Linked DNA regions of Homo sapiens. The protein of the gene in region 1 purifies or fractionates together with the protein of each later gene. This does not show direct contact. Each region holds a gene or a part of one and is shown on either strand. Other genes may lie near its edges.

Region 1 (3,500 bases):
TATATCCACAGAATACTGAATAAATGTTCAATAACTAACGTTATTTTAGACTCCTGCTGTCACCAAAAGGAGGATGGAAAATCACTAACTAAATGCTTACGTTAGTTTTATTTCATCTGATGGTCGAAGTAGTTCACTGGATATTCCTGGTTTACTTAGTGCTGAAAACACTTGTCCTCGTTCAATCCAAGTATCATCATCAGACTTTTCTAGTCCCTTACACATTACATAATTCAAAATATGTGTCAGTAATTGAAGAAGCTCCTCCTCACATCTCTATGGAAAATATAAAGTAATTTTAAATAACTAGAGGGTGTAGTTGTTCAAAGCACATCATAAGAACCATTACATATACTCATTGTAATCATTTAACATATTTTTAAAGTCCTTAATGAACCTGGAACTTTACTAGGCCCTAGAGACATAAGATGAGTAAGACATTAGCTTTGCTCTCAAAAAACTCACAATCTAGTGACTTCCAGGTTTCTAAACCTTAGATCATGAAACTTAGAACATGAATACAATATGAAATTGTTAACAACTGCTCACATATTTCTAAGGATTAGAAGTATATATCAGACATGAAAATAAAAACAACATTTGGAAAAATAAGCAATTTTACCTCTTGGCTTTCAAGTAAAGAGAAGTCATCACTAAAGCCCATATCATTTGTGATGCTGCTTTCTCTGTCAGAGTGCACAGAAAACGATTTAGTAGACTCTACTGGGGATGGTGTGCTAGGCAGACTGTCTGGCACTTGACTTCCACTATCACTCATTTCACATGAGTCAATTCCACTGAGGTCTAAACTCAAATGTGAAGGGTTACTATGCCAGAATTCCTCTTGATTCTCTGATTTGAAAGACAATTCTCCCACAGAGCTATCTTCTGGAAATAATGGTGTGTTTGAGTCTAAAGAGTGTCTATCCTCCAAACTCCACTGATCCGAAGACACATTAGCTGAGGCAAAAGAGGTGATTTTTTCCTCATCTGTTTTTTCATCAGAGTTCTTCTTGGTATCTTCAGTTGACATATTTTTATCATTGTCTTTCATTAAAACAGCTCTACTGTGCTTATGAAGAGTATTTCCGTTTTCAAATTTTGCTTTTAAAAAAAGCCTAACTAAGGTGTCTTGCCAACCCACTTGCTGTGATATTTGATGTGCTGCATCTGGCTGGAACTGCAAAATTTGCAAAACCTGTAAAAAGATTTAGAATACAAAATTCTTCAAAAAGTACATAGTACTTTATATCAAAAATAATATTTTCAGTTATTTTAATGATAAGGTAATTTAATGAGAAACTATAGAAGAATATACTTTCAAAAGATTATATTCTTAATTAGATTATAAACTATTTGGAAGACTGGCACTGTGTTTCCAACTAATCTCCATATTACTCATTGTACAGAGTAAGAGTACACTAAAATATCTGCTGGAAGATAAAAAAGAAAAATTAAAATGAATAGGATGATGGTATATGTTAAATAATAGAGTAATATCCTCTCAACTAAATACTTTCCATGAGCCCCCTACATTTGTTCAGGAAATATTATTGCACACCTACTATGTGCTAGGCACAGTTTTAGGCACTAGCATTAGGGGAGTGAATAGGACACATAAGACATTTTGATAGAAACTGAGTATACCAAGGATGTTTTTCTGTCTCGTTTTTTTCAGGGAAAGTTAAGTTTTTTTTTTTTTTTTGAGACAGGGTCTTGCTCTGTCGCACCAGTGCAGTGGTGCGATCTTGACTCACTACAACCTCCGGCTCCTAGGTTCATGCAACTCTCCTGCCTCAGCCTCCCGAGTAGCTGGGACTACAGGCACACAGCACCACTCCTGGCTAATTTTTGTATTTTTAGTACAGACAGGGTTTCACCATGTTGGCCAGGCTGGTCTCGAACTCCTGACCTCCTGTGATCTGCCTGCCTCGGCTTCCCAAAGTGCTGGGATTACAGGCATGAGCCATGGTTGCTTTTGCAAAAACTTTTTTGTTCAGTATGTCTACACTAAAGTCTACATTGCTTAGTAAGTCTATATTATACAAACAGAACAAAAACTAAACTTTAATTCCAGAAAATGAATTTCAGCAAGATGGATGCCACTGCTTAGCTAGAATAGTAAACAGTGACATGAGAATACGTATGATCTCTACTATCCAATTGATTAAAATTTTTAGATAAAAACAAGTTCTTAAAAAGCTTTAGACATTCAGTTAAGATCTTTTAAGACAATTTTATCACAAAGTCAATAAACTTCTATGTAGATGAAAAGAACTCTAGCTTCCAGGGTTTTGAGTATCTCTCTTAACAGAAGTTTTAGCTCTGACAATTTTCAGAGCAAGAGATGAACAATGTTGGTAAGGACTTCAATATTACTAGTACTAATACATGTTGATACAGAAGGCAAGGAGTCACAATGACGTGAAGATTCTTTCTTTATTAATACAATATCAATCAGTGAGCAACTGTTACTTTATAGGTGCAGAATAACAATTTTTTTCTTCCAGATTAAGCTTTACTTGGCAAAGAAACTTTTCATGCTGACTTTAAAGTTTCCATAAAATATGACTTATTTTATATCTATTTTATACATAAATAATAGATAAAACCAAGCTGCACTGAGAGCTGTTTCTAATTATACGTGAAAAGGAAAGGATCAATTTATATGACCTGCTCCAAATACTCAGAGCTAAGTACATAGGGAAATAATCACTGTCACACACACTGTTTGTATAAATGTAAACTGGTACAGTTATTTTGAAGGACAATGTGGAAAAATCCATCAAAATGTAAAACGTTAATACCCTTTGAAACAGCAATTCTATTTCATGGAGTATGTCCTACAGATGTATTACCACAAATTGGAAAACATAAAAAGACATTCATAACAGCAGTTTATAACATGGAAAAGCAGGAAACAACCTAAATGTCTATCAATAAGGAACCAGATAATACTTTATTAAATAGCCATACAATGAAACACTATGCATTTCCATTAAAGAGAAAAGGAAATTATACATATATATTATACAACAAATATATATATTTTTCTTTTCTGTCAGTTAAACAAATAAATTATATATGTGTGTGTATATATGTGTATATATATATAAACTCTATATATAGAGATCTCTTATTCTCACACACACATATATATATATATATATCAAGAACTGTGACAAAATCATGAGGTAAAATAAAAAAAAGAAAAGCAAGGAAGCAAATTAAATAGGTCAATGGTTACTAGTGGAGGACAGAGAAAGTTATGATCTGAAAGGGGAAGACAGGATAACTATCTCTTGACTTAGTTAAAGGTTAACTGTGTACTAAAGACAAATCATTGTTGGAATACTCCTAAACAAATTATAGAAAATTATTTCCAGAAAGTTTCAAAAGATTCAGAAACTCTATAATATGGTATATTAATTAGAAATGGTCACAATCATTGAAGGTTCTTAATAAGAAAATTATTCTCTGGTAATACATTTTTGACTCTG
Region 2 (3,500 bases), on another chromosome or scaffold:
TATTGGAAAAGCTGGTACAGTTGAGGAGGAGAAGTCAGGGAATACAGGAATAGAGATGTGACTAATTGAATGGCCATTGGACTGAAAGTCAAGCAATCCTATATTTTAGACCTGATTGTGCCAGGAACTTCAAGGGATTTGAGAGGAAGTCATTTAACCTCTCTGAGTCACAGTTTTAATATTACAAAACAAGAGAGCTGAATGAGATCTGGTTTCACATTTAACATCGTGTCATTCTGTGATATGAGAAAGGCTAGGCAGAGACAATGGGGAAAAAATTGCATTCTCACAATCTTCCCAGCTCTCTCCATCTACCTTGTTTATGTATGAACTCCTAGCAAGATTTTGGTATTCAACAACATATGCAAGAAGAGCATCAGGCGTTTTCATCCCAACTGGTTTTCTAATTCTTTCCTTGTATATTGAAAGTAATTTTACAAATTAAAATGTTGTGCTAAGTCACAAAAGTTCAGAGAGAAAATGATAACTTTCACATATGAAAAGACACCAGGATTGAAAATGTGTATACCTTTATTTATTTATTCATTCACCCATCCATTTGTTTAATCAACCATATTTATTGAGTACATACTATGTTTCAGGCATCTTCTAGTTCCTGGTGTATATATGTATATATATATGTATATATACATATATACATATATATATACACATATATACATATATATATATACACGCATATATGTTGGGCATCCCTAATCTGAAAATTTGAGTGGAAGTGCTCCAAAACTCCAAATTTTTGAGCACAAACATGAAACAAGTAGAAAATTTCCTACTTGACCTCATGTGATGGGTCACAGTCAAAATGCAGGTACACAATGCACAGTTTACTCAGAATTAACAAGAGAAAAAAGAATTTCCCAGCCCCTTTCGGCTGTGATATATCTTTTTCTTGAACACCCAGTTTTTCCCATGAAAGCAAGTCCACAAAGGGTAAAAAATGGCACCTGTGCAGGATGAATGAGCCTATAGCAGATTTGCCACTCTGCCTCCATGGGGCCAAGATTTGTGTGTATTTCTCTGTGTGTGTCTTTTTTTGTTTTTTGGGGTTTTTTTTTATTTTGTTTTTGTTTTGCTTTTTCTCTACTCTGTGATGTAAATATACTGTTGAAAATATCAAAAAGGTCTGCAGATACTTATGGGTAACAGTGATAAGAAAAAAAAAGGAAGCATTTATGTATACTTATAACACAGAAAGTCAAGCTTTTGGATAAATTGGACAGTGGTATAGGTATAAAATGTCTGATAGAAGAGTATGGTGTTGAGGCCAGGCGCAGTGGCTCATGCCTGTAATTCCAGCACTTTGGGAAGCTGAGGCAGGTGGATCACCTGAGGTTGGGAGTTTGAGACCAGCCTGGCCAACAAGGTGAAACCCTGTCTCTACTAAAAACAGAAAAATTAGCTGGGTGTGGAGGCATGTGCCTGTAATCCCAGCTACTTGGGAGGCTGAGGCAGGAAAATTGCTTGAACCTGGGAGGCAGAGGTTGTAGTGAGCTGAGATCACATCACTGCACTCCAGCCTGGGCAACAGAGTGAGTCTCCATCTCAAAAAAGTAACAATAAAAAAAGAGTATGGTGTTGAAATGACCACCATATATGACTCAAAGAAATAGAAGGATAAACTGTTTAAGTCCTATGCTGAAGTTAATGAAAAATGTAAAAAAACATTCCACAAAGCTACAAATGAAGATCCCAATTGTGTATTGAGAAAGTGGATCCATCAGTATCACAAAGAACACATGCCACTTAATGGTATGCTGATCATGAAACAGGAAAAGATCTATCACGATGAACTGAAAATTTAAAAGAACTGCGAATATGCGTAGTTCTTTGGCATAAATTTAAGAAAAAACATGGCATTAAATTTTCAAATATTTGTAGTGACGAAACATCTGCTGATCAGAAAGCAGCAGAGAAATTTATTGATGAGTTTGCCAAGATCATCACTGATAAAAATTCTCACACTAGATCAAGTCTATAGTGCTGATGAAACATCACTGTTTTGGCATTATTGCTTCAGAAAGACACTGACTTCAGCCGATGAGACAGGCCTTGTGGGCAATCAGGATACCAAGGACAGGATAATTGCGCTGGGATGTGCTAATGCAGCAGGCACACACAAATGTAAACCTGCTGTAATAGGCAAAAGCTTGAATTCTCACTATTTTCAAAGAGTAAATTTCTTACTAGTCCATTATCATGCTAACAAAAGGCATGGGTCACCAGGGACATCTTTTGTGATTGTTTTCACAACATTTTGTAGCAATGGCTCATGCTCACTGCAGGGAAGCTGGACTGGATGAAGGCTGCAAGATTTTGTTATTCCTTGACAACTTTTATGCTTATTCTTCAGCTAAAATTCTCATCAAAAGTAATACTTATTCCATGTGCTTTTCCCCAAATGTGACTTTATTAATTTAGCCATGTGAGAATGGTGTCCTTAGATCAATCAGTGTAAATATAAAACATTTTCGTAAACAGTATGTTATCAGCAGTGAACATAGGTGTGGGTGTTTCGCATAAAGGATGTTGTATATGCTGTTGCCAATGCTTGTAATGCAGTAACTAAAGACAGTTGTGCATACCTGGCATAACCTCTGTCCTGCAACTATGTTCAGTAAGTATTATAAATAAAGTGACTTTGAATGATTCTGTATGTCAAATGAGAAAAAAAAAAGATGTCTGACCATACATACGCAAAAAAAAGTACCTTCAGAGTCCACCAGTAAGTTGGAAGAAGTTGATATTGAAGAAATTTTTAACACTGATAATGAGGCTCCAGTTGTTCATTTATTAACCAATGGTGAAATAGCTGAAATGGTTCTGAATCAAGATGATTGTGATAATAGCAATAATGACGATGGTGGTTAACACTGTAAAGACTTTGTCAGGGGCCAGATCAGGCAGGTCTTGTAGGCCAAGGTGAAAAATTTAGATTTTATGCAAAACACAATGGAAAGCGGGTAAAGGATCTTAAGAGAGGAATAATATGACCATTAGGGTTTAAAAAGGCCACTCTGGTAGCATGGGAGAATAAATTTGAGAGATGCCAGAGGGAAAGCTGGATCTTGGAAGGAAGCTGTTACAGTAGTTTATGGAGTGATAATGATGGTTGCATTAGACTAATGGGTGAATTTTAGATAAATTTTTAACTAAAAGATTTCCTGGTTTGTAGGTTGGCAGTGAAGGAAAGTAAGAAATTAAAGTTGATACTCAGTATTCTGCCTTAGGCCAGCCAGTGGATGGTGGTGCTGATGAGATGGGAACACTCAGAGAGGGGCAGAAGGAAAGACACATTTCAGGGTTCTATTTGGACATGGTACTTTAGCGATATCCATGAGACATCTAGGTGGGGATGGAAGATGAATACAGGAAATGTACCTTTAAGGAGAGGCTCGGGCAAGAGATAATAATTTAGGAGTTGTCTGCATATACATGGTATTTAACGCCAAGAGAAGGGATGAGTTTAGACATGGAAA

The links. The genes of interacting proteins can lie anywhere in the genome.
Region 2: the proteins of NBEAL1 (region 1) and ANKRD22 purify together in Homo sapiens (co-immunoprecipitation; one large-scale study listed by IntAct). This does not show direct contact.

The regions. Positions count from the first base shown.
Region 1 is NC_000002.12:203,133,375-203,136,874, reverse strand, and holds part of NBEAL1 (neurobeachin-like protein 1), read right to left. Parts: intron 1,199-3,500; coding exon 623-1,198; intron 277-622; coding exon 101-276; intron 1-100.
Region 2 is NC_000010.11:88,845,345-88,848,844, reverse strand, and holds part of ANKRD22 (ankyrin repeat domain-containing protein 22), read left to right. Parts: intron 1-3,500.